7 linked regions of the Homo sapiens genome follow. The protein of the gene in region 4 purifies or fractionates together with the protein of the main gene of each other region. This does not show direct contact. Each region holds a gene or a part of one and is shown on either strand. Other genes may lie near its edges.

Region 1 (4,133 bases), on a different chromosome or scaffold from region 4:
TTCACCCCTTATCAACTCGATATCCATCCACATCTCTTAAACCATACTTAATTTCCAAATGAAGACAATAACAAGGTAATAGTTCTGCCTAACATGATGCAATTATCCTGTATACAGCTGAAACGGCACTAATCCCTAACCTCAAATTCGGCTTTCAGGATTTTAACATCTGGGATTTTAATCTTTCAGGATTGTGATTTTGGAAGTTCACACATTAGGGATTCTGATCTTTTGGGATTTAAGACATTAGGGATTTTGGTCTTTCAGGATTTTCGCATTTGAGATTGTATCATTCAGGATTATGATCCAAACCCATGGACATTTTGTTGTCAGCAGCTGTCCTGTGCATTGTAAAATGTTTACAGTGTCCCTGGCCTGTACCCACTAGCAGCCAGTAGCACCCTACCCCAAATCATGACAATCAAAAATGCCCCCAGACATTGCCAAACGTCTCTTGAGGAGCAAAATCACCCTGTTAAGGACCACTGGCTTACATACATGGATTAATGAGATGGGAGGTAAAGCGCCATACAGTTTAGGACTGGAATGCCACTCCCTTGAGCATCAGATCCATGTTTCCTTCTGTACCCTACAATGAAGACCTACAAATCATAAACACAACTCCCATCAACTAAGAGACCAACAAATGCAAGACACATAACTACAGGGAAACTGAAGAATTCTTTTATTTAGTGGGAAAGAAGTAGGTAAATGACAGACAGCTCATATTCTGTTAAACAGAAAAAAAAAAAGAATACAAACATCACAGTGATGAATTTTCACAAAGCTAACAGATTTGAACTACAGAGCAATGGAATATTTATAAGCAAGATGTCATGGTATTAATGACCAAATTGCATCTAACTGGGTTTTCTAAGCTCAAAAACATTTAAAATCTCAGACTTAAAATTTAAATCTAGACATGACAATTGTAAGCATACCACTCAGTCATTTAAAACTATTCAGTGAGTGCTACTCTTCCTGCATAAATATTTTTTTCCTAACATTATTTTTTCTCCCAAGATTTAGAATGTCACATCTCATGTTCCTACTAGTAATCACACACAGGATTAAAAGCCCAACCAAGAAAGTATTCTTTTTATAATATGTTCTTAAAAGAAGAAAGAAAAATTAAATGTGAACATTTTGTACAATAGTTGCTGAAGAACAGTAAAACCAATTCCGAAATATCATGTGTACTATACAGAAAGGCATGGCTCATGGAACCAAGTATTCAACACTACAGCATTTGAATATCAGTCTTTAAAGGTTGGTAATATTACATCCTGTACACAGCTCTGTGTCTCTCTACCTGGCTAGCGCATGCCCAGGATCTGTCTGCTTTTCAGTTGGTAATTTTTCTCAATATCTGACAGGGCTTGAGCCCGCAGCTGGGCAGCGTGAAGCCTTTTCTTCAGGTCCTTGCACTTGGACTTAGATGTGAGCTGACTCTCAGAATTCTCACTCCTCATGATGTTCTCTTTACTTTCCCCACTGAAATGAACTTTCTTCTTAATTACTGAGGATGGAAGATTAAGAAGTTCTTTAGAAGGAAAAAGAAAAAGGGCTCTGAGTTACTTGAACAGAGTTCAACTCCTTCATACTTATACTTATCAAAAAGTATTTGCTCTTATGGCTCACATTTGAAATCTAGGTGCCTGTTTTATTTTCTCTGGGATAGGAGGTTAGGGGTGTAGGACTTGCAGAAATCAGCCTTTTAATCCACAGCATTGAAAAAATAATATTGGAATGTGCCAAAATTCAAGGAACATAAGTTTTATTCTCTTAACAACCAACAATCAATTTTACTCTTAAACACACTGAGTATTATGGACAACATAAAACTTTTGGAAATCAATGTTATTTATCTCTGTCCTTGAAAATAAGTGCCATTCTATGCAGAACACCTTACCTACAGAAAAGTGTAGAAGCAGAGGTTTTTTTCTGTCTTTGTTTTTTTTTTTTTTTTTAAATAGAGAACACCTACAGTTTTGGTTAAATGTTCAAGAACACTTAGTTCAAAGCATCTTAATGGACGAGAAATCTGTTTCCAAAAAATCTAAACAAATTCAGTGTGGAAAAGGTAAATCAAGTAAGAGTAGTAAAAACTGTAAACTATTCTTTACATGGAAAAAATAAATAATAATCATATTTACTTAAAGTGGCAACACTATTAACTGCTGACAGAATTACTGGGGGCTGGAGGCTTACAGATTCTAGAATCCTTTTATTTTTTGTGTTAAAGGAAATATGTTCGAATATTTACTGAGCTCATAGGATGGGCCACTGTGAACCAAACAAAGGCCCTATTCTAGTAGGAGGAGATAAACCAAACACAAACAAACAAGTACTGGTGGGGAATATTTGATGGTAATACGTGCTATTAGGAAAAATAGCTCTGGAAACAGGGACATGCTGGGTGCTGGGTGCTGGGTGTAATGATACAAAGCCTCATACAGCATTTCTGAAGTAAGAAGCCACAGGGCTGTCTGGATGAAGAGTGCTCCAGGCAGAAGAAATAGGAAAGGCTGGCACACAGATGCACTGCCTTCCAAGGGTCCTGTGACTTCCCGCTTCATACGTCGCTTCTGCTTCAAAGCAAACTGGATTGCTTTTAGACCTTATCTCCACTGTTTCAACTCTATCCACCTTCTTATTACCACAAATACCTTTACATTTGTAAGTCAACATTGTCTTACTAATGGGATAGTTTTATTTTGTTTTTGTTTTTGTCTGAGATGGGGTCTTGCCATGTTTTCCAGGCTGGAGTGCAGTGGCTAGTCACAGGTGCAGCTGTAGTGCACTACAGCCTTGGACGCCTCGGCTTAAGTGATCTTCCTGCCTGAGCCCCAGAGTAGCTGGGACTATAGGTGCGTCACCACACTTGGCTCTTAATGGGACAGTTTTATAAGAAAGAAAGTGTTTTAAAAACATTTTTAAAATTCTTCCATTAAATAGAAGAATGAATATTTCATCAAATACGAAAAGAACAGCTTTTAAAAAAGACACTGCTGCTTGCTGTGATGATTTCAATATACTTGTGATGGCTTCCTCACGTGTGGATTTTATAGCCCAAGGATGGGGAGAGAATATTTCCAACTGTCCTGAGTTCAGAATGGTACCCGCTCCCCACTGCTATGATGCTTATCTTATAGCTCTGATGTGTTCACTACTTTCAGCACTCAATACCCTAAAATGTCTGCTTGCCCCAGTGGATACTTGATTCCTATGGCTCATTTTAAATATTTGCCATGATTCACATATAAGTAGATTCCCATACTTATCTGTGTATCCTATAAAGTAAAACACATCATCCTTACTTAGCTATTTTCATCTTTTGCTCAAAGACTATCAGGGCAAATGTAAATAAACTCTTTAACCGAACAGCCATCCCCAACAGGGTCTTAAGTAATTCTCTGCAATGGGTTTGATGCATGAAATTCATCCAGGTAAAATTTTCTCCTCATTTTATCACCCTAATCATGATTTAAGTCTATTTTGTCTTTATGGATGACAGTGTGGAATCTATGAAAAGCCAGAATAAATATTTTTATAATATTGAAATGGTAGACTGCAATATTGGGAAAAAAGAAGGTATTTTAACAGAGATGAAGCCAAAGTTTCATATAATCCTTGTTTCATTTACTTCTATCAGTAGTTTCATTTCTTTCCATCACTTATTCACTACAAAGTTATTGTGATCATCAATCTAACTTAAGTAGGGTTTTTTGTCTGTTCCATTTACAAAATGCTGCCAATGCTCACTAAATTGATCACACTACATCTCAATTTATTAAAGATGGGAATAATAGCTTTCATATATGCTGTCCTACATGGAATAAGGGAGTTATAAAAACTCTAAATTTTATTGAAAATTCAGATGCTCGATTTTTGAAACCAACAACTTTTAACAGTTAGTTTGTGTCATAAATCAAGCAAAAAGATGTTTCACAGTTTGCATTTTACATAATCTTAAAGAGTCGATTAAATTAGATTGAGGGTTTCTATAAAATGGAGAATGTTAGACAATGGTTCACTGGTATATACGATAACCACATCTCAGTGCGGCAGAGTGAAGGGACAATGCCACACAAAGGCAGGGCCCTGAGAAAGCTGAATATCTATATACCAGA
Region 2 (4,971 bases), on a different chromosome or scaffold from region 4:
GGGGAGGGGAGGGACACTGCCGCTGTGGGGCCAGGCCAGAGTGGGCTGCCCTCCAGAGCTCCTTTTATGACGTCAGCTCCCGGGGCGGGGCATACCCCCGCCCCCAGCTCCTCACCAGGCAAACCTGGGCATATGGGCCTGCCCCTGCTGGTGAGGTGGCCACAACGGTGTGTGGGAATGGGATGCTCTGTGACCCAGGTGGTGTGGGCTGAGTCCCGGGAGCCAAAGGGCAGAGGCAGGATCAGCCACGGGATTCCAGCCTTGGTGAGTGACAAAGGTCTGTGGCCGTGGTGGGGGAGGCGGGCAAGGGCGTCCTGGGTATGTCCACTCGGCCGATGGCTGGGCAGCAGCTGAGGCAAGAGGAGGCCAAGGTGGGGTTCAGGCAGGCTGGGGTGGGGACAAGAGCCTGCTTTTTTTGTGCCCATTATCTGGCCAGGTCTTCCGGGGTAAGCTCCACAAAGGCGGGAAAGTCTGTCCCTGTCTAGGACAGTGGCTGGCACACGAGGGCCGTCGGTAAACTCTTGGATGAACCAGGCTCAGAGACACACAGTGCTCAAGGTCACACAGCGAGTCAGTGAGGGAGGGGATGTGAAACCAGGGCCAAGGCTGCAGCGGACAGCAAATCCAAAGAAGTGTTCCACTCAATTCTGGTAAGAAAAATAGGAATTGATGATAAATATTGATTACTGACTGTAGTGGGTTGAATGGTGGCCCCCAAAAAGATATGTTCCTATCCTAATCCTTGGAACCTCTGAATGTGAGCTTATTTGGAAAAAGGATCTTTTCGGATGTAATTAAATTAAGGATGTCGAGATGAGATCATCCTGGATTATCTGAGTGGGCCCTAAATCCAGTGACACATGTCCGTATAGGAGATGGACACTGACGCAGCTGGAAGCTGGGGGCCAGGAGGGTTCTCCCTGCAGCCTCCAGAGGGAGTGCGGCCCCACTAACACCTCGATTTCAGACCTCTGGCCTCCAGAACTGGGGGAAGAGATTTCTTTTGTATTGAGCTACCCAGTTTGTAATAATTTGTAACAGCCCTAGAAAACGAATCAGGTGAGTGAGGTAACCAAATATTCTTAGGCATTTATATTCCTTTAATTCTTGTTCTGGTGTTGGATCATATATAGAAACAGCAATTCACAATACTGATTAATATCTGTTCCTACCTTCACCTCACCCCACTCCAATTAAGATCAAAACCATGCTAAACCACCTACTAACCACACCAATAAAGAGCCTAGATGTTTGGGTCACCAAGTCTTAACTAAAGATAGCCTTCCTGCCTGCCTTCTTTCCTTCCTCCCTTCCTCCCTCCCTCCTTCCCTCCTTCTTTCCCTTCCCTTCCCTTCCGTTCCCTGCCTTCCTTCCCTCCTCCCTCCCTCCCTTCCCCCTCCTTCCTTCATTTCCTCCTTCCTTCCTTCCTTCCTTCCTCCCTTTCTCCTTCCTTCCTTCTTTCTTTCCTTCCTCCCTCCCCTTCCCCCTTCTCCCTTCCCTCCCTTCTTCACTCCTGGCTTCTTTCCTTCCTCCTTCCTTCCTTCATTCCTCCCTTCTTCCTCCTCTTCCTTTTTCTAGTCTTCATCCCTTTCTATTATCCTCCCTCTCTCTCTTTTCTTTCAGTGCTCATGGGTGCTAGGTTTCAGGCTCCTAGCAGGGGACAGTGTGTGTTCTAACCAATCCCAAATGCCAGGAGGAATGGAGACAGACTGTAGAGACACTTTGTAAACCCAGCCTCCAGTGACCATCGCTGTCCCTCCATGCAGCTTATCAAAAGCACGACTCGCACCCCCATGCTGGGCATCCACCCACCTACACCTGCTGACACATGTGGCTTAGCAGAGGAGTTGAAGAGCAGAACTTCTCCACTGGATGTAGCTACAGATGAACCTGATTCTTTATCTCTGTGGCTGGATTTTTGTCACTATGTCTCGGTTAGCAGTTAGCACCTGCTGTCCCTTGCAGGCTTGTTCCTGGGGCGGGAGAAAGATGCTTGCCCTGCACAGTTCTCCATGATGGCGGTGGCAGTGGGAGAGGCACTGCTGTTGACTGTGTTGCTGGTGGGGAGAGGCACGGTGGGTGTCCATGGAGATGGATAAGGTGTCATTATATAGTAGAGGTGACCATGGGAGCAGTGTTGATGTGGAGGTAATGGTCATGGTGGGTGTGAGGGGGAGAGTAATTATGGGTGATGGTGGAGTTGATCATGATGATGGTGATGCTGGTGGTGACAGCAGCAAGGCTTGTGCTTGAGAGTAATTGATGATGGTAGTGGTGGTGGTGATGGTCATGCCAGAGGAGATGGTAACAGCGAGCCTTTGTTGTGGTTGGCAGTGATGGTGCAGGTATGATGAGGAGGTGATGGGAATGGCTCCTAGTGAGCCATTGGTGTGGTTGGCAGTGGTGACAGTAATGGTGATGATGAAGGTGAAGGTGGTGGAGGTAGCAGAGGTTGTATCTTGTTCGGCTATACCACAGTGACAGCTTCCACCTCTCAGTGGCTCACGACAAACATCTAGTTCCCCCCACTTCACTCACTGGTGCCTACAGGCAGCTGCCAGGGCCCCACCTCCCATAGCTTCTCACTGTGGGTCCCAGGCTGGAGAATCAGCTCTGACCTGCACACCCCTCTCTCATGACAGTGCCACTCAGAGACAGCAGGAACTTGGGCTGCCTCTGAAAGCTTCTGTTGGGCCATGATGTGTGGCAGTCTTGCTGCATCCCATGGTCAAGGCCAGTATCCATGGGGCAAAGAATGTTTCCTTCAGGAAGGTTCTGCAAATCTCAGGGCAATAGGAAGAGAGGCCTGAGATTCCCATGGGGAAGAGGGAGTGAGCAGTTCTCCAACATATGCCAGATGCTCAAGATGGGACTGACAGCGGGGCTGGTAACGATGGCTCTGCTGGGAGCAGTGTTGGTGCTGCTGGTGCCGGGGACACCCGTGGTGGTGATGGGATAGGAGGCAGGAATTGTGCTATTAATGGAGGATGGTGGTGAGGGTGGTTGTGGAAGAGGCAATGGTAGAGGGGGGTGCCGAGGGGTGAGAAGGACACAGTGGTGGACATGCTGGTGTGAGTGCCGATGGCGATGGTGATGGCACTGAGGTGTGGGGCTCTGTATTTTCTGTTGCTAACTTGGCATTACACCAACCTCTTCCATGGTCTCCTTGCATCCTGGAGAAATCTGAGGGATTTTCCAGAATCCCATCACCGGTATAATTCCAGACTAGAGCCTGCCAATACAAGGGATTTGGAGAGTGGAAAAGAGAGGCCGTTGCAGGCAGGTGACAATGGTGAGCTTTGCAACAGCTCGGGGCAATCTTCTGCGAAGACCCTGCTTCTGAGCCACAGGCTGAGGCATGGATGGGGAGCTTCCTGGAATACCGTGAGCTCCTCAGCAGCTCCCAGGCAAGCTCTAGAGAGCCGCTCACCTGGGAGCTGCAGGTGAGCATCTCGATTCCTTGTTCCCTGACCGCTGGTCCCAGACTGTTCAGGGTGCAGCGTGTAGTAAATGTCCTCCTCCTTGGTACACATTTGAGGGCTGTGTACTGTGAGGGTGATGGCGGCTCAGATGAAGGTGGTGGTTGTGATGGAGTTGGGTGTGAGGATAGCAGAGAGAAAGCAGATGGTGACATCAGGAAGGCATTGGAGGGGCAGTGGTGGTGGCAGTGATGATGGTGGCAGTCTAATTAGAGGCAGTGGTGGGTCTGGCTGAGGCAGACCCGGTGGTGGTGATGGTGGTGGTAGTAGAGGGGGCAATGACGGTGGTGATGGCAAAGGCGGTGTGAGTGGTTGATACTGGTGGCAGAGCTGATAAGGTGATGTCACAGATGGGATGGTGGGTGGAGATGGAGGTGGAGGAAGTGTGGTGACAGTGATGTGGTGGTGACACAATGCTGACACGGGTGGAGAGCACCGTGGTGACGGTGACAGAGATGATAGTGATAGTGGGGCTGGTGGCAGTGGTAGAGGAGATGGGGATGGGACGCTGGGGTGTTGATGGTGATGGTGACACTGCTGAGGGTGTTGGTGGCCTGACATTGTAAAGGTGAAGCCTGAAGTTTCCATGACGATGGAATCAGGACAGTGGAGGAGGGGTGGTGAAAACAATGTTAAGAGACAAAGGACCTAGTATGATGAGGCATCCAAGAATCCTGTGGCCGCCTCCCCGTCCTGGCCCTCCCTGCCTTGTTGGAGACCCTGGCTCTGGTCTGCGTTGTACTCCCAGGGGAAATTTCTTCCAGCCACTGCCCTGCTCCAACCCTTGTTCCTGGGATGGGTCTGTGGGAGTCAGCCAGGATGGAGACAGGGCTGGAGACCCCCTCACTGCCGCCCATTCAGGGCTGTCTTAGGGCACACAGAACAGACCACTCGGTAGGACTTACGGGAACAGGTGTGTCACCTGGGAGCAGGTCCCACACCTCACCATCAAGGGCATCCTGAGATGGAGGCCCCTGTGGGGAGCTCCCCATGAAGGGAGCTGTGGACCGTGGAGCCGGGCAGTGTGCAGAGGAGTTTCCCTTCTGCAAAGGGTTCAGGCTAGTCTCCTTCCACGCCAGTTTTTGGGGAGCCAGTGGGGAGCATCAGGGGCTCTGAGGCCTCCATAGGGCCTGCTGGAGGGACAGGGACACACAGGCATGAGCGCACACTTAGGCCCCACACGCTCCACCGTCAATTCTGTCAGGCCACCTCCCCTCTTCAAGCCTCTCTGTCCTCATTCACCAGTGGGTGCTTTTGGGGATTTGCCCTCTCTGGGGAGCCAGCCTAGGCTTCCTGGCCTCAGATGTCCCATGTCCCTCATCTCAGGCCCACCCTAAAGCCAACCCCGAGCCATGGCCAGGGAGAGAAGGACCTTCAGCGACCAAGCGAGGCCCAGAGAGGGCAGGGCACACCGAAGGTCACACAGCAGTACCAGGAAGGTCTCCCCCGGGCGAGCTGATGGAGCCGATTAAGCAGCCAATTGGTATTCGGA
Region 3 (4,283 bases), on a different chromosome or scaffold from region 4:
GGTTGAAATCAAGGTGTCAAAAAGTCATCAAGGCATATATAAAGCAGCAGTATACTTAAATTAGAAGGTCTAAAAGGAAGAGAATGGCAAATCAGTCTTAGGGACAGTGAGGATCTGAGGGGCAGATTAAAAATAAGCTGTGAATGTAGACTATTCCACCCACCATAACTAAAATTTTAAAAAGCTATCAAACAAGGAACTAAACTGAGCAACAATTACTGATCTCAGGAGATTTATTAGAAATAAAGAAGAGTAGCTTTATAAATCTAAGATCCAAATGATGAGATTACTTCAAATTCTTGGAATTTATGGGATTTAGACACAACTACAGAGAAAATGTCTCTAGAGACCATTAGATAACTATAACTCTCCAGAGTTGTAATCTCATGGTCATGCTATTTTAGTAGTTCCCCGGCCTCAGGACCTGATTCATAGAATTTCTTCTAGCATATATGTATATATTTTTTTGAGACAGAGTCTCGCTCTGTTGCCCAGGCTGGAGTGCAGTGGCATGATCTCAGCTCACTGCAACCTCCACCTGCTGGGTTCAAATGATTCTTGTGCCTCAACCCCCAAAGTACCTGGGATTACACGTATGTGTCACCATGCCGGGCTAATTTTTGTAATTTTAGTAGAGATAGGGTTTCACCATGTTGGCCAGACTGGTCTTGAGCTCCTGGTCTCAAGTGATCTGCCCACCTCAGCCTCCCAAAGTGCTGGGATTACAGGCATGAGCCCCCATGCCCAACCCATTCTAGCACATAATTTTTCATTTTGATACTTTTGGATATGTATCCTCTGGGCTGAGTTCCTGTATTTATACATACATATACTTCTAATAATTTTGATAAAATATTTTATATTAATAGGTGTGACAGCTAGGTTCAGTGGCTCACGGTAATCCTAGCACTTTGGGAGGCCACAGCAGGAGGATCACTAGAGGCCAGGAGTTCCAGATCAGCTTGGGCAACACAGCAAGACCCCATCTCTACAAAAACACTTAAAAAATTAGCCAGGTGTGGTGGCATGTGCCTGCAGTCCCAGCTACTCAGGAGTCTGAGGTGGGAGGATCGCTTGAGCCCAAGAATTTGAGGCTGCAGTGAGCTATGATTGTGCCACTGCACTCTAACCTGGGTGACAGAGTGAGATCCTGTCTCAAACAAAAAAAGGTAGGTGTCAAATTTCCTCCATGTTTTGGAAAAAGGCACTTTAACAGTAACCAGTGGTGCCCTGATTATAACATTTCATGAGGCTCACCGCTATCCATTAATGCACAGCCATAAAGACAGTATTTTTTAATGTGTTTACTACCTAATTAAGGAATATTTCAGAGTTTTAAATTTTCCTCCAATTTTTTTTTTGAGATGGAGTCTTGCCCTGTCTCCCAGGCTGGAGTGCAGTGACACCATCTCGGCTCACTGCAACCTCTGTCTCCCGGGTTCAAGTGATTCTCTTGCCTCAGCCTCCCGAGTAGCTGGATCTACAGGCGCGTGCCACCACACCCGGCTAGTTTTTTGTATTTTTAGTAGAGACGGGGTTTCGCCATGTTGGCCAGGATGGTCTCGATCTCCTGACCTCGTGATCTGCCCACCTTGGTCTCCCAAAGTGCTGGGATTACAGGCGTGAGCCACTGCGCCTGGCCAGTCCAATATTCAATATCAATTTTTTTTGAGTTGGAGTCTTGGTCTGTCGCCCAGGATGGAGTGTAGTGGCTCCATCTCGGCTCACTACAACCTCCGCCTCCCGGGTTCAAGCAATTCTCCTGTCTCAGCCTCCTGAGTAGCTGGGATTACAGGCGCCCGCCACCATGCCCAGCTAATTTTTGTATTTTTAGTAGAGACAGGGTTTCACCATGTTGGCCAGGCTGTTCTTGAACTCCTGACCTCAGGTGATCTGCCTGCCTTGGCCTCCCAAGGTGCTGGGATTACAGGCATGAGCCACCGCACCTGGCAACATCACTATTTGCCAGTTTTTACTTCATTTTCTGAAAACAGAATGCCCCTGTTTCCACAGTGATTTAGAAGTTGCTGTTGTAATAATCTGCATTACTAACAATATGAGTTATCATAAGATCATTTGGTATTATAGCACATTTGAAAGTATCTTGTTTGACTTACCTTGGGGTTAATGGACTAAGAGCTGCTGGTCCTCCTAATAAACTTCGACCAGTTTTTGGTTTATTTTGAACCTGTTTAGATAATATGGAAGTTCCTGTTCCCAGTGGGACAGTATCAGGTGAAATTACAGCTGAATCAATATAAGACACTGAGGAATCTGTATTCAAGGAGTACTTTGAATTGGAAGATTCTAAATTCAATCTGTTTAATTCCTGAAACAGAAAATTTCTACCAAGTCATTCACAATATATTATTTAGTTCAGATCATTCTTTGTAGTTTTCATAATATTTTGAACACTAGAATATAAGACACTTACAATTGTGTCCTGGGGTGTTTCCGTAAGAACTGTCTCAGGCTGTCTGTGAGATAAACTATGATTAGGTACTTGTGTTGTGCAAGAGTTGGGCAGACAGTTGCTAAAGTTCTGTAAAGATGTGAATTTAAATGTTTGGTCAGGATCTGGCTTTTCACCTGTGAAGACAAAAAAAAAAAAAGTTTGTCTCTGAGGAAGTGAGGAATACATGTTTTTCAAGTATGCATAAATCAGTGGAAACAGGAAATAGGCCTTATCCAAACTTTAAAAATCTCCTGTCCACTTCTGCTAATCAAATTTACCCCCAAAAAACCCATCTATCAATATATCATAAAAGTTTACCAGTAAGATAAAGCTGTAAATGAAAATAAACTACAAGAACACTAATTTTAAACATAACAAATCGCAGAAAAATGCAGATTTCTGTGTTTGTTTTAAAGCTGAAAATAACTAGATCTCATTTTTCTCAAAGTAGGAGATGAGGTTGAAGAGTTAAAACCCATCATATTTTACAGTAAAGGTTGAAGCCCTTCTATATATACATAGATGCAACAATGCTGAAAAATGGTCCTTTATGTATCCTAGGCCAAATATACTGAGAAATTCTCTCCCTGTACTGTTCAGGTCTTGTAAGTTTCAGGCATTTATTAATTGCATTAGAAATTTTATTAATTTTCTTATTCAGAAAGCAATTTTGCTAGTGTTAAACACACAATATAACCCATTCTAGAGGACACCAGATACTTGAAAATAGATTGGTTCAACAGAAGAATCTACTGGATTTAATCTTTGTGTAATTTTCAGTTATATGATTCTTGAAACATACCGAAGATTCTAACTTATTTTTTATTCTCAATTTTAACTTTGAAAAATATTTTTCTTGGGGGTAGATGATCTGTATTGCTCTCCAAAAATTAAGTAGCAGGAAAAAAAGAAGAGGAGATGGGAACCCACCCACCTCTCAACCCCACCCACCTACCTATTTCACATAATGATTCAAAGGGAGACCAGAGGAAAGGATTTAAACTAAGGCTCTTTTGGTAACATTCTGATCCTTTGGCAAGCCGATCTGTCTTGCTGTGGAGAGAAACAAGTAGATTAAATAAGCTACAAACCCCAAAACCTGTATCATAAACTTTTAGTATAAAAAATTAGGTAAAAGTTACAGAAGTTCAGAGAGCACTCTTTGTGATGCTTCTCTAAGTTACCAATTTCTCCCATCTGCTAATCTCCAAATCAAGTGAAAGCGCACAGAACATGAATCAAAAGAAATGCTTACAAAACAAACTATCGTTGCCTTCTTGAATATTACTATTACTTTAAACTTCCTGTCAGATACTAGAGTTATTGAGGGAGATGTGAAAAACATCCAAATCCTTCAGTATTATTCTTAATTTTTTTTTTTTTTTTTGGACAAGGTCTGGCTCTATCATACAGGCTGAAGTGCAGTGGCATGATCTTGGCTCACTGCAACCCCTACTTCCTACGCTAAAGCCATCCTCCTACCTCAGCCTCCTGAACAGCTGAGACTATAGGTGCGCACCACCATATCCGGCTAATTTTTGCATATTTTGTAGAGACCAGGCTTCACCATTGATGCCCAGGCGGGTCTTGAACTCATGAGCTCTGGTGATTTACCTGTCTTGGCCTTCCAAAATGCTGGGATTACAGGTGTGAGCCACCGCACCTGGCCTTTTTGTATTTTCGTCGAGATGGGGTTTTGCCATATTGCCCAGGCAGGTCTCGAACTCATGAGCTCAAGTGATCTGCCCACCACAGCCTCCCAAAATGCTGGAATTACAGGCGTGATCCACCACGCTTGGCCTTAATTTTTAATACAACATTCCCAGTG
Region 4 (3,824 bases):
CACCTGTCCCTCTCCCCCTCGTATTACTCAGACTTAAACTACCCCAAAAAGGCTAAAGTCCTGCTAAGAGTCTCCGTAGAACTGATGATTCAAGAGGCTCTTATGATCACAGCTGGTGATTCCCTGTGTTGAATTAGTGAAAACAGGCCAGGCACAGTAATCCCAGCACTTTGAGAGGACTGCTTAATGTCAGGAGCTCAAGCCCAGCTTGGGCAACACAGATGCCTGTCTCTACATAAAACAATAAAAATTTTTAAAAAAAATTTTTTTTTAATGCCCAGAACAATAGGGCATGATTCAAAATTATCCTCCGAGCTGCCTCTCTGGTTCTTTCTGGGAAAAACACTTAGGCAAGTTGAGAAAGGAAGGAAAGTTGGAATAATGGCAAAACTGTTAGAAGCATTCCTCTTTCCTCCATTGCCTGTCCTCCCAACATTATACCCAAACTAGTTACAAAGCCATTCTGTAAAGAGATCGGGTACCTACAATTTCTTCAGATTTACACAATATCCACTAGAATTTAATTTCTACAAGGGCAGGGATCTTTGTTGAGTGGCACATGGTAGACACTCAATAAATACTTATTGAATAGATGGGTTAAGTGAAAGTGGCAGGGATCAACTAGAGTGTCCTGTGCTTAGGGTCTTTTAATAAAGATGGAAAGAATGATGTTAATCTTGTAGCAATTATCTTTTAAAGTCTGGGAATTAACAGTACTGTTATACTTCATTAAGGATGCCTCACATTTTTCCAAAAATATATTTATTTTTAAAAACAGAAAATCAGATCAGTTTTATAGAGTCAAATTTTCAAGAGACAAACCAGAGTTTGGATTCCAGCTTAGAGTGCAAGTGAAGCATCAGTAATCTCATGCAGAAGATTTGTCTCTGCAGGAGGTACATTCTGCTTGACTGCAAGCACTCAATTCTCTAAATCTGGTTTGTACTTCTGCCATCATTTTATTCCATTCCAGCGCTCTGGCATGCAAGATAATCCATCTCTAAAATTCAAGACTTCCAAATTGAGATGAACGATTATTGGGCTTGGGTTGGGGTTTATAACCAATCCGATCATTGATCATTTGTTCCCGGCTCTTGGGATCACTGCTAAGCCCAATGGCTCCTTCTCCATCACTGCCTCCTACAACTTCCACATCTTCCTTCTGTTTCTTACGGGTCTGAAAGTATAAAAGTTTTAGGATTAAGGCAACATTCTTTCAATTAGCAAATGTTTATTTAGAACACCTACCATGTACTAGGCATGGGCTAAATGATAGAGTTAGGGTGTAAAGAACAATAAACTGAAATCCTAGGTTTGGAGTACTTAGGGGCACAATGAGGATATGGTGTTAAAAGTTGTAACCCCTGATCACTTGAGGTCAGGAGTTCGAGACTAGCCTGGCAAACATGGTGAAACCCTATCTCTACTAAAAATACAAAAATTTGGCGGGGCACGGTGGCTCACATCTGTAATCCCAGCCCTTTGGGAGGCTGAGGCGAGCGGATCACGAGGTCAGGAGATCGAGACCACCCTAGCCAACATGGTGAAACTCCATCTCTACTAAAAATACAAAAATTAGCTGGGCATGGTGGCGCATGCCTGTAATCCCAGCTACTTGGGAGGCTGAGGCAGGAGAATCGCTTGAACCAGGAAGTCGGAGGTTGCAGAGAGCTGAGATGGTGCCACTGCACTCCAGCCTGGCGACAGAGCGAGACTCTGTCTTAAAAAAAACAAAAGATGTAACCCCTACCCTCCAGGATGTCACAGTCTAATAGGGAAACAGGCAAACAGACGATTATAGGGTGATCAGGGCTATGACCTATGACAGAGAGAAGTCTACACTGCCAAAGAGACAAGAGGTAAGGAGTTGGGGTGTGGTGGTACAACAGGAAGCTACAATTGGAAAGCTGTAAGAGCAGACAAGTGAGAGCAAAGGGCATTTCAACAAATTTATTATTCTAGAGAATAGAAAAATAAATTGGGTAAAGAAATAACCACCAAAAATCTATAGCCTGACTGATCCCATGAGATTAAAAGTAACTCAAGAAGGTTTTATGCTATCTTATCAAAAGGTCTGGGTTTTGTGGCTTCATTTTGTTTTCAGATAAAAGGTTTGGCTCCTAAGTCACATGTGACTGCAGAATCCAGAAAGTATGTCTTAGTTTGATCATTTTCAAAAACAGACACTTATCCCATAACAGCCACTACCTGACTGTAAGGATAACAGATGATAACTTTCTCTAAGAGAGTGAAATGATGTTTTATCCAAAGTTACTTAATAGAAGAATGGCTCAGCTACTCAAATCACTGGAATTACCACCATTCTTCACCACTTGCTGCTGAACTGTGGGCATTTAAATGCCAAGCATCAGGCTGACCGCAGTGGCTCATGCCTGTAAATCCCAGTGCTTTGGGAGGCCAAGGCGGAGGATTGCTTGAGCCCAGGAGTGTGACACTAGCCTGGGCAACATAGTGACACTCCATCTGTCTCCACAATTTTTTTTTTTTCTTTAGACTGAGTCTCTGTCTGTTGCCAGGCTGGAGTGTAGTGGCGCCATCTTGGCTCACTGCAACCTCCGCCTCCTGGGTTCAAGCGATTCTCCTGCCTCAGCCTCTCAAGTAGTTGGGACTACAGGCGCATGCCAGCACACCTGGCTAATTTTTGCACTTTTAGTAGAGACAGGGTTTCAACATGTTAGCTAGGATGGTCTCAATCTCTTGACCTCGTGATCCGCCTGCCTCGGCCTCTCAAGGTGCTGGGGTTTACAGGCATGAGCCACCGCACCCGGCCCACAAAAAAATTTAAAAATTAGCCAGGCATGGTGGCGCATGCCTGTATTCCCAGTTATTCAGGGGGCCTGATGTGGTAGGATCACCTGAGCCTGGCAGGTCAAGGCTGCAGTGAGCTGTGATCATGCCACTGTACTCCAGCCAGGGCGACAGAGCAAGACCCTGTCTCAACAATAAAAATAAAAAAAAAAAATAAATGCCAACACTCACAAAGTATTACAGGGAATAAAATAAGGTATTGCCTTTTATGTGGCAAATGACCTTCCTGATTACTAGTAAGTGATGTTAGAAAGTTCTACCTAAATACCTTTGTGAAAACAAGTTCGAAAAGGCAAACAACTCTATCATTCTGAGAATATCCAAATGGAATGAAATCACTTAAAAGGCTTCCCACTTTGAGCAACTGCTGTTTCAGAAGCTAGAGTCACAGTAGTATAATCAAACTCATGTTGGTAATAAATGAAACAGGCCAGTTTTCTACTGGTTTCACTTTAGGGCATGACTGTCCCTGCTTCCTAAGTTACTCTAAAACAAGGTAAAACCCACTAGATAACTGTCTTTAGTGGAAAGACTAACTCAATAGTGAGCTGACTGTAGAGTCAAAGTTCAGCATGCTAGCATTTTATGAGATTCGTTACAACTGAAGTTTAAGCCATACTTTAAAGCTCATGCTTAATAATATATGAGTTTTTAGAAAGCAAAAATTACGATACTTAGAGAACACTAAAGTCTCTTGGGATGAAGCAGGGGGAAAGAAATCTAAGTTATTAGTCTTAATATGAAGCATATACAATACATAATAAAGCTGTTGGTGAATATATGCAAAACGTACTGTCCTCTGCCATATAGTACAAGATACCTACTAGGACAGCAAATGAAAATAGACTTGCATTGAGCCCTCCTTTGGACCTGGTATTGCAGGGAACAGATGCAGAGAGAAATATACTAATCCCTGACTTCAAGGAGCTTATGGCCCAGTGAGGGAAAACAAAAGCAAACAGACAATTACAACAGAGAGTGACCGTGCCTATGAG
Region 5 (4,283 bases), on a different chromosome or scaffold from region 4:
CTGGCCCCTGCTAGAGCTCTTACCACAAGCACGACTCTGCCCTCAGCCTCCCTCTAAGCAGAGCCCCTCCCCCAGCATCCTGGAGCCCCTCAGCTTGTTTTAAGTGATTGCTGATTTAGCGCTCCTCAGACAATGTCCCCAGGCCTGCAAATGTGGGACCTTGTGTTTATCTCGGGTGTCACCACATCCCTGGGCTCCTAAAACAGTAACTGGTGCACAGCAGACGCTTGGTGAATTTCTGCTGACCATTTCAAGCTGGCTGGATGGGAGCTACCGCACTATGGAGACGGCGAGTCCACTTTCGCTGCCTGTTTCTGGCTGAATGAATGAAAGAGTGGGTCTCAGTGGGCTGGGAAAGGTCACCGTCCCCCCTGCTCTCTCTGCAGCTCCACTGTCACCTCCCCCAAGACCTGCCATCTGGCTGGCCCCTCCCCCACCCCAGCCCTCCAGGGGACTGCTCTCTGAGGTCACCTGTGACCTCCTGCTCAGAAATCCAGTGACCGCCCCTTGGCTCTCACTCTGACCTCTCACGGCATCTGACCTTGCTGCCCTCTCCTTCCTGCCCTTTCAAAGCTTCTCGCCTGTCCCTGGAGAGATGTCCTGGCCCTGCGCAGAGAGCCCCCAATCCCTTACCAGCCAGGGCAGACTCCACTCCCCAATCAGGTGCTGTCCTCCAGGAACTGGTACCCTTTTTCAGTCACAGATCCTTCTGAGAAGCTGACCGAAATCAGGGGAGGTTCTGCACAGAAAAATGTGCAGAGAATCCACAGCTACACCACGGCCAATTTATGGAGCACTTACTTCGGGCCAGGCACACAGGGCAAAGCTTTTCTTTTCTTTCTTCCTTTTCATATATCACAAGTCATCAAGCAAGAAGCATTTTTTTTTAGAGACAAGGTCTTGCCCTGTTTCCCGGGATGGAGTGCAGTGGTACGATTATGGCTCAATGTAGCCTCAAGCTTCTGGGCTCAAGCAATCCTCCCGCCTCAGCCTCTGGAATAGCTGGGACTAGAGGCATGTGCCACCATGCCGGCTAATTTTTTTAAATTATTTTTTAAGAGATACAGTTTCACTGTGTTTCCCGGGCTGGTTGTAAATTCCTGGACTCAAACCGCCCTGCTGCCTCGGCCTCCCAAAACCTGGGATTACAGGCATGAGCCTCTGTGCCCAACTGGGGTGAAGTATTTTACATGTGTTTCCTCCCCTCCACGAAAACCTCCAGGGAGGTGCCACTGTCACCCCCTTTCAGGGAGGGAAAGTGAAGCTCAGAGGCTCATCCACAGTCACAGCTACCGATTCTTGTCCTTTTACCCCTTTGCAAAACTGTGTCCAATTGTGAGGGGCTCATGGGACCGCCCCCAGGGGCCATCCACAGACCAGATTAAGAACCCGAGCTCTGGAGCCGTGGCTGCCATGACTCACACCTGTAATCCCAGCACTTTGGGGGCCAAGGTAGGAGAATCGCTTGAGCCCAGGAGTTCCACATCCGCCTGAGCAACATAGTGAGACCCTGTCTCTACAAAAAAAAAAAAAAAAAAAAATTAGCCAGGCATGGTGATGTGCGCCTGTGGTCCCAGCCTGTAGAGAGGCTGAGGGAGGGAGAATCCCTTGAGCCTGGGTGTTCAAGGCTGCAATGAGCTATGATCGTGTCACTGCACTCCAGCCTGGGTGACACAGCAAGACCCTGTCTCAAAAAAAGAAGAAAAAAAAATCCTAGCTCTGAGCTGATGGAACTGATGGAAACCCCTCCCAGCCTCAACTCGCCACCTCAAGCAGCCAGGTGTGGCCCAGGTGGGCCCCTCCATCCTGCCCTCGCTTAAGTGGCTGCTTCCCTGGATGTCTTTGCAAACTCACCACCTCCCAGGTTCTCCAGCAGACCTTAGAAGCAGCAGGTTTCCGCAGAAAGGAGACACACCTGCCACAGAGGTCTTCCTGAGCCTCTCCACCTGCTAAATCCAACCTGGTCTGAGGTGTGTGAGGCTTGGCATCTCAAAGTCATTAGCAAGTTCACACCACACTCCAGCTTCTGTTGAAAGGCCTTGCCCACCCATCTCATCCAGACCCCCTACACAGAGGGCCAGTGCTTGGTGACCAGGAGCTGCTCACAGCACTGGACACCTTCCATTAAGATTTCACCTGAGGCTGGGTGCGGTGACTCATGCCGGTAATCCTAGGACTTTGGGAGGCCAAGGCAGATGGATCACTTGAGGTCAGGAGTTCAAGACCAGCCTGGCCAAAAGGGTGAGACCCCCGTATCTACTAAAAATACAAAAATTATCTGGGTGTGGTTGCACGCACTTATAATCCTAGCTACTTGGGAGTCTGATGCAGGAGAATGACTTGAACCTGGGAGGCTAGAGGTTGCAGTGAGATGACATTGAGCCACTGTGCTCCAGCCTGGGTGACAGGGCGAGAATTCATCTCCAAAAAAACCAAAAAAATCCTCGATTCCAACCCAGCCCTGTTTCCACTTTTAGCCCCTCCACTCCTCACAGGGGACCCTGTGCTCCAAGCCAGGTGGCTGTCTCCAGCCCTGGCCCACTGGAGCACCTCTCCATAACCCAGAAACGTCCTTCCCAACATTCTGGCCAGGTCCAGATCCTACCCACTGTGGCCAAGGTGACTCCCTGTATGTTCTCTCTTTGTCCATGGAAACTGGAACCCTAAATTCAGCTGAGCACATGGCCGCTCAGATTGAAAACTACATTTCCCAGCATCCCTTGCAGCTGGCAGTGATCATGTGACTACATTCTAGCCAACAAAATGAAAGCTGAAGCACCTTGCATCAGCTACCGGGAACCTTTCTTAACAAACACCTGGATGTGACCTTTGCACCCTTTCTCCTTTGTCCCTTCCTCTGTCCTGCTGTCTGGAAGCCAGGGTGTAATGGCGGGACTCCAGCAGTCATGCTGAAACCTGAGGACAAGACCTCACCTTAAGAATGGTGGAGGATCAGCCTGGGGCAGTGGCCTGTAATCCCAGCACTTTGGGAGGCCGAGGCGGGTGGATCACCTGAGGTCAGGAGTTTGAGAACAGCCTGGCCAACGTGGCGATACCCCGTCTCTACTAAAAATACAAAAATTAGCCAGCCGTGGTGGCACACGCCTGTAGTCCCAGATACTTGGGAGGCTGAGGCAGGAGAATCGCTTGAACCCGGGAGGCAGAGGATGCAGTGAGCTGAGATCACACCACTGCACTGCAGCCCCTGGGCAACAGAGCGAGACACCATCTCAAAAAAAAAAAAAAAGCCGGGGGGAGGACCTGGATCTGGGAACTTCCAAGAGCCCAGGAGACTTTGGCACCTGACAATCTTCACACTTTAGCATTAGAGCACAAAAAATAAAATGCCATCGTGTTTAATTAAGCCTCTGCTACTTTGGGTCTTTGTGATGAACAGATAAATGTCACTGAACCACTTATATATGCATTTAAGGTGGGCATCCAGTCACCCAGAATGCCAAAGCCATCTCTGCTGCCTGCCAACCACATCACTTTGGCCAGTCAAGTTCTTTCATTTCTGTTTTTCCACCAGTAAATTGGGGTTGGTATCTCTGACCTCACAGAACTCTTTTCAGAGTAAGTGGTAACATACAGTAAGCGCCACAATTGGCACAAGGGGCTCACACAATTCAGAAGTATGCTCTATTCGGCCTGAGGATTTTTTGGTTTCTCTTTTGGCTGGGGCCAAACTCCCCACAGACCCCAACTCCTGCCTGCCTCATTCATTTATCCCAGGGGTCTACAAGCTTCCCCTGCCTCGGGCCAGTGAGTAAATATTTCAGGTTTTGCAGGACACTGTGGTCTCAACTGATTATTGTTGTTTGTGGATTGGGTTTTAGTTTTTTTCCCTAATCAATCTCTCAAAAACTGTAAAAGCCTTTCTTAGCTTTGTCTGTACAAAAATAGGCCACACCGGGCCCAGCGGTTCGTGACTATAATCCCAGCTACTTCTGAGGCTCAGGCAGGAGGAGGATGGTTTGAGGCCAGGGGTTTGGGGCCAGCCTGGGAAACACAGCAAGACTCTGTCTCTAAAAAAATTGCTTAAATTAGCCAAGGGTGGTGACATGTGCTTGTAGTCCCAGCTACTTGGGAGGATGAGGCCAGAGGATCACTTGAGCCCAGGAGTTAGAGGCTGCAGTGAGCTACTAAAATACAAAAAATTAGCTGGGCATGGCGGCATGTGCCTGTAATCCCAGCTACTCGGGAGGCTGAGACAGGAGAATCGCTTGAACCTGGGAGGCAGAGGTTGCAGTGAGCCGAGATTGCGCCACTGCATTCCAGCC
Region 6 (4,283 bases), on a different chromosome or scaffold from region 4:
GAGTAGCTGGGATTACTGTGCCACCACGCCTGGCTAATTTTTGTATTATTAGTAGAGACAGGGTTTCACCATGTTGGCCAGGCTGGTCTAGAACTCCCAACCTCACGTGATCCTCTAAGGAATCCAACCCACCTTGGCCTCCCAAAGTGCAGGGATTACAGGCATAAGCCACCACACCCGGCCAGGGAACCTACACTCTTATGCAAGGTTCCAAGGGTCCCAAAAAGGAGATAGAAAATTGTGGGTCTGTATAAGTGGGAGGCCCAGAGAAGCTGGTCATACCCTTGGTAGTACTGAGCAGTAGACAGATGCCCAGCACAGAGCAGCTGGTGCAGCAGCTGCCCCATATGCTCACGAGCAATGGCACTGCGCTCCAGCGTAGACTCGACACCATGCCGTACAAAGATGAAGAGCAAGGAGGGTGAGGCCAGCTCCTGCACGCACTGGACTGCCTCCTGAGGGGTGCAGGGCACAGCAGGAAGAGACCAGTCACTGTCTGACCCAGACCCCGGACCCCTATGCCTGCCAGCATGATCCCTCCCTGCCCACTCCTCAATCACACGCCGCTCCCACTGCCTACTTTCATGTCATTGAGATGGAGATATTCCTCAATGATAGCCTTGGATTTCTTCTCTAACTCCTCCTCAGAGAGAGCCGCCTTCAGGGGGCTCACTGGGGGTAGGGCAGCTTCTCGCTTCACTGTGGGAAGAGAACACAGATTAGAGGGACTTTTCAGTCTTCCCAGCAAACAAGATTTGGAGCTCTCAAAAAGCTGGGGACCAGCTAGTCCCAAGGCAGCCAATGCCTTTCCCTCCATTCCTCTCCCAGACTCTCACCGGCATCCCGCCCACGGTCCCGATCCTCCGTGAGGCTAGCTGCCTTGCGCAGCCCCTCAGGCTGGGAGGGCCGTTCTCTACTCCGCTCCTCCACTTCCTTGCTGAAGCTCCGCTTGGTAGCAGGTGTCCGCGCACGATCAAGCCGGTCCCCACGGTCCCCTCCCCGTTCACTCCGCTCTAGGCGGTCTCCTCGGTCTCCAGCTTTCTCGCCTCGTTCTCGGCTCAAGCTACTCCTGGAAGACAGACAGACAAATTTTCACTCACTTGCACTGCCCAGGCACTCATGTAATTACACAACATGCTGAGCAACTGTTGGGCCTTGTTCTTAGCATAATGAGTATGCCCCAATCTAACCCAAGGGCTCCAACCAGGACAGGTATGAAGAAATTTCCAACCTATGGCAACAACCAGAACCCAATCACGGTACCCCCAGTGTGAATAACAAAGATGTCCAGGAAACCTCACCTCTGCACCACACGTCTATTATCTGTGCTTTCTGTGGGTACCGCTTGTTGAAGGGCTGAGAAGCGATTCAAAGTACTAGTAGCTGGGCGAGCAGCTTCTGATGCTGGGGATGCAGAAAATCCGTATTAAAATCTTTTTCTCCTTTCCTGCATTTTATCCCCTACTTGCCAGTTTAGGACACTTGGTCCCAGTCCCAAAAGTAAAGCAGTTCAATCCCTGGAACCACAACACAAACCTCCTCTATTGCCCGCATTGCCTAACCACCTTGTACTGAAGGCCTCCCTAACAGAAAAGGCTCTGTCCTCAAGGGAGCTCTGACGGGTAACCACCCAGCTCCTGACACTGCCTCCATACCTGCGTCTGAGGGCTTGGCTCCTGAGCCTCCGCTGCTGCCCTTGCCCCAGCTCAGTCGCCCTCCAGGTGCAAAGAGCTGGTTGTTAGAATCGATGGAGCCAGGCTGAAGAAGAAAAGGGGAGTAGAATCATAGGTCCAACCCGGCTGAGTCCCTTGGCCAGCACCACCATATGCAACCAAACAGGTAGTGAATGGCCCAGTCCAGGGGTCAGAAAATCTTTTTTAATAAAGGGCCAGTCTCTATTGCAACTACTCAATTCTGCCACAGTAGCATGAAACCAGCTGTAGATGATAAAGGCATGCTGTGACTGTGTTCCAATAAAACTTCATGGACACTGACATTTACATTTTATTTAATTTCCACAGCATAAATTACCATTCACTTTTTGATTTTTCGCAACTTTAAAATGTAAAAACCACTACTGGGTCCTGGGATGTATGAATGGGCTGGATCTGGCACGTGTGTGTGTGTGTGTGTGTGTGTGTGTGTGTTTGCCAAACACTGGTCCAGACTAATGGGAGTACCACCCTCCCTCTACAGCTGGCAGTCCTGTCTCCAGCAATCCAACCAGTTAGTCTAAGAGGAAACATTCAGCTGTCACCTTCTCAACTTTAGAAAAGTGAAGGGACTAAGATCTAAACCTGAGCTGAATCACCCACTCCCACACACACCCCTACCTTGGTGATCTTGGTGAGTCGTGAGGTGTCAATGGGGCGGCTACCTTTGCTGATGGGAACTGTGTTCCAGCCACCATCATCCACAAGGGGAAGTCCACGGCCTGACACAAAAAGAGGGGCATACTGGAATAATGAATAAATCCTAGCAGCCCCTTCCCCTTGGGCCACCCCCAGCCTCCCTTCCTCAGATCCTCAGTTCCATCATGGTGTCTCAGTGGCCCAGACACGTGGCACTAACAGGAAGTCATCAGAGGAAAGTATAACCTCCCGGTCCCTTCACTGCTCCCTTCTCAATCCCAGCTTGGAACTCACTGATGGGAGGGCCTGGAGGACCGCCCCGACGCTTGTCACTGCCCTTGGCCATGAGCTGCTGCACTTTGATGTGCTCTCGATGTTCTTCCATCTCAGCCTCCTTATGGATCTGGTCAATGGTCTTGGGACCCTGATCCCCTCGGCGTGGCACCCAATTGCTCTGTGGAGACAGAGGGCCAGTCACGATGATGTCAGGGAAGGCAAGACAAGGCAGTGTCAGAAACTGGAGGCAGCAGGCTGGCAGTGGGGAGGAGGGGGACACACACCCCTCGCAGATCCAGCACGTCCTGCAGCATAAAGCGGATGCGGGATGACGTCTTCTTTTCTTTAATGATTTTTTCCATCTGGTTGAAATACTGATCCATTCGGGGCTAGGAAGGAGAAAGGCATCAGACCAGGAACTTCTCATGTCCCACCTATAACTGCAGGCCCCACCCCTCCTCAGGCCTTCCGCCCCATCATTGTGGGCTCAGTGAGCCCCACATATGCTTCAGCCCATCCCCCTCCAGATGCAAGGACCTCTACCTTGGCTTTTTCAAAGTCCAGGTCTTTGCCAATGGTGGTGAGCAGACGACAAAGGCACTCAAGGGACTCTTCATCATGGTTCTTAAGCAGTTTGACCACACAGTCATGCATTATTGCCTCTGTTAACATCTTCAGTTTGAACAACTCTCCAATAAACTTGATATTCCCTAAAGAGCGCCGCCGGGCTATGTCCCGAGCCTCTTCCAGCTCTTCCTTCAGGCGTCCTCGTTCCTCTGCCTGCCATTCACAGGACAGGGATTGTGTCAAAAAGATAACCAGCCACTCGGCTAAAACCCTTTTCTACCTGGATATCCAAACCTAGCAATAAGCACTCAGTCCTGAGGCCGGCTGGCTGGGCATAGTGGCTCATGCCTGTAATCCCATCAATTTGGGAGGCTGAGGCAGGCGGATCACTTGAGGTCAGGAGGAGTTTGAGACCAGCTTGGCCAACATGGTAAAACCCCGTCTCTATTAAAAATACAAAAAAATTAGCCAGGTATGGTGGCACATGCCTGTAATCCCAGCTACTTGGGAGGCTGAGGCAGGAGAATCGCTTGAACTCAGGAGGTGGAGGCTAGCCAAGATCACACCACTGCACTCCAGCCTGGGTGACAGAGCAAGACTGTCTCAAAAAGGAAAAAAAACGTCCTGAGCCAGAGAAATCCCCAAGACACCACTACCTCCATTCCAAATTCTACAGCTGAGTAGCATCTGGGTAAGGGAAGGAGGTAAGTGGTGAGTGGAATCGATAGTGGGTTTTCTCTCACCGTAGCAGCTTCATCCATCTCTTTTTGCTTCTTCTCAAAAACCTCATCATCATCTTTGTCTTTCTCAAACTCCTTCTGACATCGATTCAACAACAGCTTTCGGAAGTTCACAGTCACTGTTGGCTTTTCCGTAGTGGGCACTTTCAGCTGTAGGTCAGAGAGAATGTCACACTCAAGACTAGTCCTGGGCAGGGAAGGCCCTCCAAGAGCCTTTAACTACCTGACCCAGGAAGATCTCTGGCCCCAGCTCTGCCTCCTTCCAGCTGGAAGAGGCACAAGTTGGAGGGGAACCAAGAAGCTGGACTCAAGGAGTCTTGGGAATAGGAATGGGCAACCAGACCATTAG
Region 7 (4,927 bases), on a different chromosome or scaffold from region 4:
CCACTAATTTTGTTTATTTTTTGTAGAGAGGAAGTCTCACTATGTTGCTCAGGCGGGTCTCCAATTCCTGGGCTCAAGTGATCCTCCCACCTCAGCCTCCCAAAATGCTGGGATTACAGGCCTGAGCCACTCTGCTCAGCTGACATTTTCAATCTTGTTATTAGATCACTCTTCCTCTTTTCTCTGAGCTCTGATAACTTTCCAAATTGTACTCATATCCACAGAGGCAACAACTTTGGGAGTTAGATTAATATCCAATCTTCCGGACTACACTGGGTCAAAATACAGCCTGACAAGTTTTTGAATTGTTTTTGAACTTAAGCAGTAAGGGACCAGGTCCAAATCTCTAAGTGAATTCCTGGTGGGATTCAAATAAAGTATACAGACAACTTAGCCATCTTTTGGAGAGCAGCTCAGTCTTTATTTCCCATCAGTTCAGAGTAGAACCCACGGTGAACTGTTTATATATCTCACCTAAGATTTAAAACTCTAATCTATTTTACCTACACCCTGATAAATGCTCTATTCAGTTGCAAATGCTTTATACTTTATATTTTGAAGTCAGGTGCTGAGCAGAGCACCCAAGCAACTGCCAGAGTGAGGACAGCTTCAAAAGGTAGCCACAGTGTGACTTCTAAGCTGAATATAATCAAACGAACTCCCTTTCATCCTGTTTTCTTCCAAACTCTCAGAACTACTATCGTTCCACACACAAAACAGCCAGGGTTGAAAACTGGAGCACAGAATTAGCATAAAGCTAACTTTAAATAAGCAGTTTTCTGCTGAGGTGGAAGGATATACCTAAGTAATTTCTAGCTCTAAAGATTTAGGTTAAATTTTGAATGCTACCAGCAAGTGGTAAATGAGAGTAAAGCAAAACTAATAAACCCTAGATGGTAACTGCTCTCAGGGCAGGAATTAACTGATCACCAGAACCAAACATAACACCTGGCCTATAGTAAGGAAGTAGTTGTTCACTTCAGTAAATGTTTGCTGAGTGAATTAAATATTTCACAGAAACCACAGATTCCTTAAAGGTCATCTAACCCAACTTCCCCATTTTATATATGAAAAAATAAAACTGAGGTGTAGAGACAATTTTAGCTTATCTGCTGTGACATTTTGAAGCAATGGCTTGTTGGTATGTTATTTGTCATGTGCAACGTAAAGCAGCATAATGGGTAAGATTATGAAGCCTCTCTGAGTTCTGGTTTTGCTACTTACTTGCTGCATGACTGTGGACACATCATTTAACCCATTTATGCCTAGTGTTCCATTACTGGAACGCTAAGCATGTGGGAGTTATTTATACCCTACTGCTCAAGGTCATCGCCAAGGTCTGATGCCAAAAATGTAAAAAATTGCAACCTCCGGCATATATATATATATATATATATATATATATATATATATATATATATATATATATTTTTTTTTTTTTTTTTTTTTGAGACAGAGTTTCACTCTTGTTGCCCAGGCTAGAGTGCAATGGCACGATCTTGGCTCACTGCAACCTCCGCCTCCCCCTCCGGGATCTTTTTGTTCCTTAGTTGTCTTATCTGCAAAATGGGAAACAGGTTGAGTACCCTTCATCCGAAATGCTTGGGACTTGGAAGTATTCTGGATTTCGGATTTTTTTTTCAGGTTTTGGGATATTTGCATTATACTTAATGATTAAGCCTCTCAAATCCGAAAATCTAAAATTCAAAATGCTCCAATTAGCATTTCCTTTGACCATCCTGTCAGTGCTCAAAAAGTTTTAAATTTTGGAGGATTTTGGATTTCTGGATTAAGGATACTCAACCTGTAATAACGGCACCTACCTCACACAGGTGTGACAAAGATTAGTTAATACACGTAAAACACTTGGAACAGTTACAGGCTTAGTAAACACTTCATAAATCTTGGCTATTCAAAGTCATTAACGGAGAGTTACTACTGAGTCTTTTTTCCTATGCAGATCCCAGGTTTTCATACTTACTATGAAAAAACCTCATGGGAAAAGTATTAATTCTCTCCATCTAACAGAGTCAGCAAGCTCCCACAGGAGAAAGAATCTGTTCAGGAGGAGGGCCAGTGCCTTCTATTAAGCACTTTACACTTTCCTTTTTTTTTTTTTTTTGAGACGGATTCTCGCTGTCACCCAGGCTGAAGTGCAGTGGCGCGATCTCGGCTCACTGCAAGCTCTGCCTCCTGGGTTCACGCCATTCTCCCGCCTCAGCCTCCCGAGTAGCTGGGACTACAGGCGCCCGCCACCACACCCGGCTAATTTTTTGTATTTTTTAGGAGAGACGGGGTTTCACCGTGTTAGCCAGGATGGTCTCGATCTCCTGACCTCGTGATCCGCCCGCCTCGGCCTCCCAAAGTGCTAGGATTACAGACGTGAGCCACCGCGCCCGGCCTACACTTTCATTTTAAGGTTCAATGATCTTAAGAAACACCCTGCCACCTTCGAAAAGTCTTTCTACCCTCAATGCCGAGCACAGAACCTGGGGCAGTGTTTCCACTGTGCTTCCAGTCCCGAGCATTTCGGATGAATGAATGATGAACAAACGACAGAACGCAGGGCGAGCAGCTCAGCAAAGGTCATGCAGGAGATAGAGAAGCGCTGTGTCATGAGTATTGGATCATTATGGATTTTTTTCTTTCTCATTGTGCAGATCTATTCGCACAACTCTATCTTCAACCAGTTTGCCAGGCCCACCGGAGGTGCCCAGTAAAATTTTGTCAAACAAATACTGATGATGAAGTATCCTGGGACTTGGCCCTGTCAGGTAAGTTGGGGCTGACAGTGGAGATCCTCACAGGAGAGTAACGATGCTTTGTGGACACAGATTGCTGTGTCCGAGCTAAGATGCTTAAACATTTACTTCATGTACGGCAGGGATGACCTCGCATTCATATATTTATGAATATAAATTCCTTTCCTTTCTAACAGATATATGCCTATTTTCTTAAAAAGAGTAATTCCTTAAAAGTTCCTACCCTAGTACAAAGGCAAATTATTACAAGTAATCATTAAATTCCATCATCAACAAATCGTTCCACTTCAAAACAGCTGGATTACAACCCAAACCAAATAGATGCCGCAGCTGTAACGGGGGGGGGGGGGGGCGGGAACGGGGCGGGGGTGGGCGTGGAGAAAAAGTGGCCAGAGAGGGGAGCGCTCAGAACACCAGCGGCTCCCAAGCTAACTCCTAGCCACTTTTCCCACCCAGCTGGGTCCCCAGGAAACTACGCCATCGGCGCTGTCCCACTGCGCAGGCGCCAGCCCTCGGCCCGCATGCGCACTCGGTCAAACCCGGCCTGGGGAAATTTCCTATCGCACGTCTGCTGCAGCAGTCTCCTGTTTCTCCTCCTACCTTCTCCATTTTTCTAGTCCCTGCAGGTAGGATCCTGGGGGTTAACTCCCTTTTCACCAAGCTCCCGAGGGCCCTCGACCCCTCGGCCTCTTACCTCAGCGGCTTTAGCACTTTCCCCTACAGCCCCACCCCCAGGACCAGCCTGAGTGGCTGCGCTCACCACGACGAGGACCGCGGCGTGTTCGCCCCCCAACAGACGGAGCCAGCGGCGAAGGCGGCGTGCGCGCGCCCGTGCCGTGGTGGGCGTGGCCGGGGCGGAGACGCGAGGAGGGGAGCAGAGAACGCGCTCGCGTAGAGGAATTCCGGGTCCTCCTCCTCGCCCTACCTTGGTTTACCTGCAGCCGCCTAGTCCTCTTCTCCTTCTCTTTGATGATTCAGGGCCTCGGCTTCCCTCACGATATTGCAGAAAGACACAGCTTTCCTCTTCCTCTCCAAACCACCTCGAAGCAGGGTTAAGTTGGTTATTCCTCTCTTTCCTTCCGAGCAGTCTCGTAGCGCAGGGCCATGTAGGACAGGTAGATGCTGCATTTGCTGTCTCCGCGACAACTGCCTGTTCTTCCGGAGCTCGTGGTCTGAGGGCCCGACTTTCATCTTAGTCTGTTTTTGTGGGGAACATTTTTTTTTTAAGCTTTTCCTTTGAAAGTCTTTTTTCGTTGAGAACTTTAGAGGCCTCGGGGAATAGGCCACTGGGTTGTGATGTCATCGAGTATTGCTAATGATGTGCCCTTTTCCTCCATCCATGTCGGTTTACCTTCTGTGTTGTTATTTCTCACGAAACCTCTTCTTGGTTCTGTAAGCGCACAACTCATCAATTATTATTTTATTTATTTTTTTGAGACGAAGTCTCGCTCTGTCGCCCAGGCTGGAGTGCAGTGGCGCGATCTCAGCTCACTGCAACCTCCGCCTCTCAGGCTTAAGCCATTCTCGTGCCTCAGCTTTCCCAGTAGTTGGGACTACAGGCGCCCGCCACCACACCCGGCTACTTTCTGTATTTTCAGTAGAGACGGGGTTTCATCATGTTGGCCTGGCTGGTCTCGAACTCCTGGCCTCAGATGATCCGCCTCGGCCTCCTAAAGTGCTGGGATTACAGACGTGAGCCACCGCGCCCACGTTGGCTTGAACATTAGTGTATTTAGTAAGGATCAACTTGTTTTCTTTGGAACTTTTAAGTATTTTGGGCTTCAAGACTATCTAAGCTGTACGTGGTAGGAATATTGGTTGAATTTAACCTCAGCTAGCCTGTAAGGAACCTTTGTTTCCTAAATTATTGATTCATTAAGTGATGTGACCAGAAGCTTGGCTTCGCAGTGAGCGATGTGCATTTTGTTGGGCAGTGGCCTGTGGAAATTGGATTCCCCCCTTCAGCAGTATGTTGGTCTGAGAACCATATTGGTTAAGTTGTTATTTTAACTGTGCTTTAACAGACAACTGGAACTGATTGTTTGGTATGAATTTCTAGCACCTCTAAAAGTACTTAGGGGCTTTTTTTTTTCTGGATGGTTAAGTGTATTAAATATCCCTCATTGTCTTAATTATCTTGCTAGATAGAAAGAGTTTGCTGGGCG

Evidence for each region.
Region 1: the proteins of CDC26 (region 4) and NEK2 purify together in Homo sapiens (affinity purification with mass spectrometry; 3 studies listed by BioGRID and IntAct, with this or other methods). This does not show direct contact.
Region 2: the proteins of CDC26 (region 4) and DNAJB8 purify together in Homo sapiens (co-immunoprecipitation; one large-scale study listed by IntAct). This does not show direct contact.
Region 3: the proteins of CDC26 (region 4) and CDC27 purify together in Homo sapiens (affinity purification with mass spectrometry; 12 studies listed by BioGRID and IntAct, with this or other methods). This does not show direct contact.
Region 5: the proteins of CDC26 (region 4) and CARM1 purify together in Homo sapiens (affinity purification with mass spectrometry; one large-scale study listed by BioGRID and IntAct). This does not show direct contact.
Region 6: the proteins of CDC26 (region 4) and EIF4G1 purify together in Homo sapiens (affinity purification with mass spectrometry; one large-scale study listed by BioGRID and IntAct). This does not show direct contact.
Region 7: the proteins of CDC26 (region 4) and ANAPC16 purify together in Homo sapiens (co-immunoprecipitation; 5 studies listed by BioGRID and IntAct, with this or other methods). This does not show direct contact.

Annotation. Positions count from the first base shown.
Region 1 is NC_000001.11:211,662,110-211,666,242, forward strand, and holds the end of NEK2 (serine/threonine-protein kinase Nek2), read right to left. Parts: intron 1,544-4,133; coding exon 1,317-1,543; 3' UTR 663-1,316; downstream 1-662. UniProt on the Homo sapiens protein: Protein kinase which is involved in the control of centrosome separation and bipolar spindle formation in mitotic cells and chromatin condensation in meiotic cells.
Region 2 is NC_000003.12:128,463,464-128,468,434, forward strand, and holds the start of DNAJB8 (dnaJ homolog subfamily B member 8), read right to left. Parts: upstream 3,428-4,971; 5' UTR 3,151-3,427; intron 1,974-3,150; 5' UTR 1,813-1,973; intron 651-1,812; exon of another isoform or gene 648-650; 5' UTR 1-647. UniProt on the Homo sapiens protein: Efficient suppressor of aggregation and toxicity of disease-associated polyglutamine proteins.
Region 3 is NC_000017.11:47,154,796-47,159,078, forward strand, and holds part of CDC27 (cell division cycle protein 27 homolog), read right to left. Parts: intron 3,509-4,283; coding exon 3,411-3,508; intron 2,590-3,410; coding exon 2,435-2,589; intron 2,330-2,434; coding exon 2,118-2,329; intron 70-2,117; exon of another isoform or gene 1-69. UniProt on the Homo sapiens protein: Component of the anaphase promoting complex/cyclosome (APC/C), a cell cycle-regulated E3 ubiquitin ligase that controls progression through mitosis and the G1 phase of the cell cycle.
Region 4 is NC_000009.12:113,266,263-113,270,086, forward strand, and holds the end of CDC26 (anaphase-promoting complex subunit CDC26), read right to left. Parts: intron 1,178-3,824; coding exon 1,001-1,177; 3' UTR 730-1,000; downstream 1-729. UniProt on the Homo sapiens protein: Component of the anaphase promoting complex/cyclosome (APC/C), a cell cycle-regulated E3 ubiquitin ligase that controls progression through mitosis and the G1 phase of the cell cycle.
Region 5 is NC_000019.10:10,877,772-10,882,054, reverse strand, and holds part of CARM1 (histone-arginine methyltransferase CARM1), read right to left. Parts: intron 1-4,283. UniProt on the Homo sapiens protein: Methylates (mono- and asymmetric dimethylation) the guanidino nitrogens of arginyl residues in several proteins involved in DNA packaging, transcription regulation, pre-mRNA splicing, and mRNA stability.
Region 6 is NC_000003.12:184,324,002-184,328,284, reverse strand, and holds part of EIF4G1 (eukaryotic translation initiation factor 4 gamma 1), read right to left. Parts: intron 4,085-4,283; coding exon 3,938-4,084; intron 3,408-3,937; coding exon 3,171-3,407; intron 3,017-3,170; coding exon 2,912-3,016; intron 2,806-2,911; coding exon 2,646-2,805; intron 2,590-2,645; exon of another isoform or gene 2,514-2,589; intron 2,435-2,513; coding exon 2,334-2,434; intron 1,759-2,333; coding exon 1,656-1,758; intron 1,405-1,655; coding exon 1,302-1,404; intron 1,070-1,301; coding exon 837-1,069; intron 700-836; coding exon 581-699; intron 456-580; coding exon 283-455; intron 1-282.
Region 7 is NC_000010.11:72,214,668-72,219,594, reverse strand, and holds the start of ANAPC16 (anaphase-promoting complex subunit 16), read right to left. Parts: upstream 3,584-4,927; 5' UTR 3,457-3,583; exon of another isoform or gene 3,319-3,456; intron 2,775-3,318; coding exon of another isoform or gene 2,742-2,774; exon of another isoform or gene 2,461-2,741; intron 1-2,460. UniProt on the Homo sapiens protein: Component of the anaphase promoting complex/cyclosome (APC/C), a cell cycle-regulated E3 ubiquitin ligase that controls progression through mitosis and the G1 phase of the cell cycle.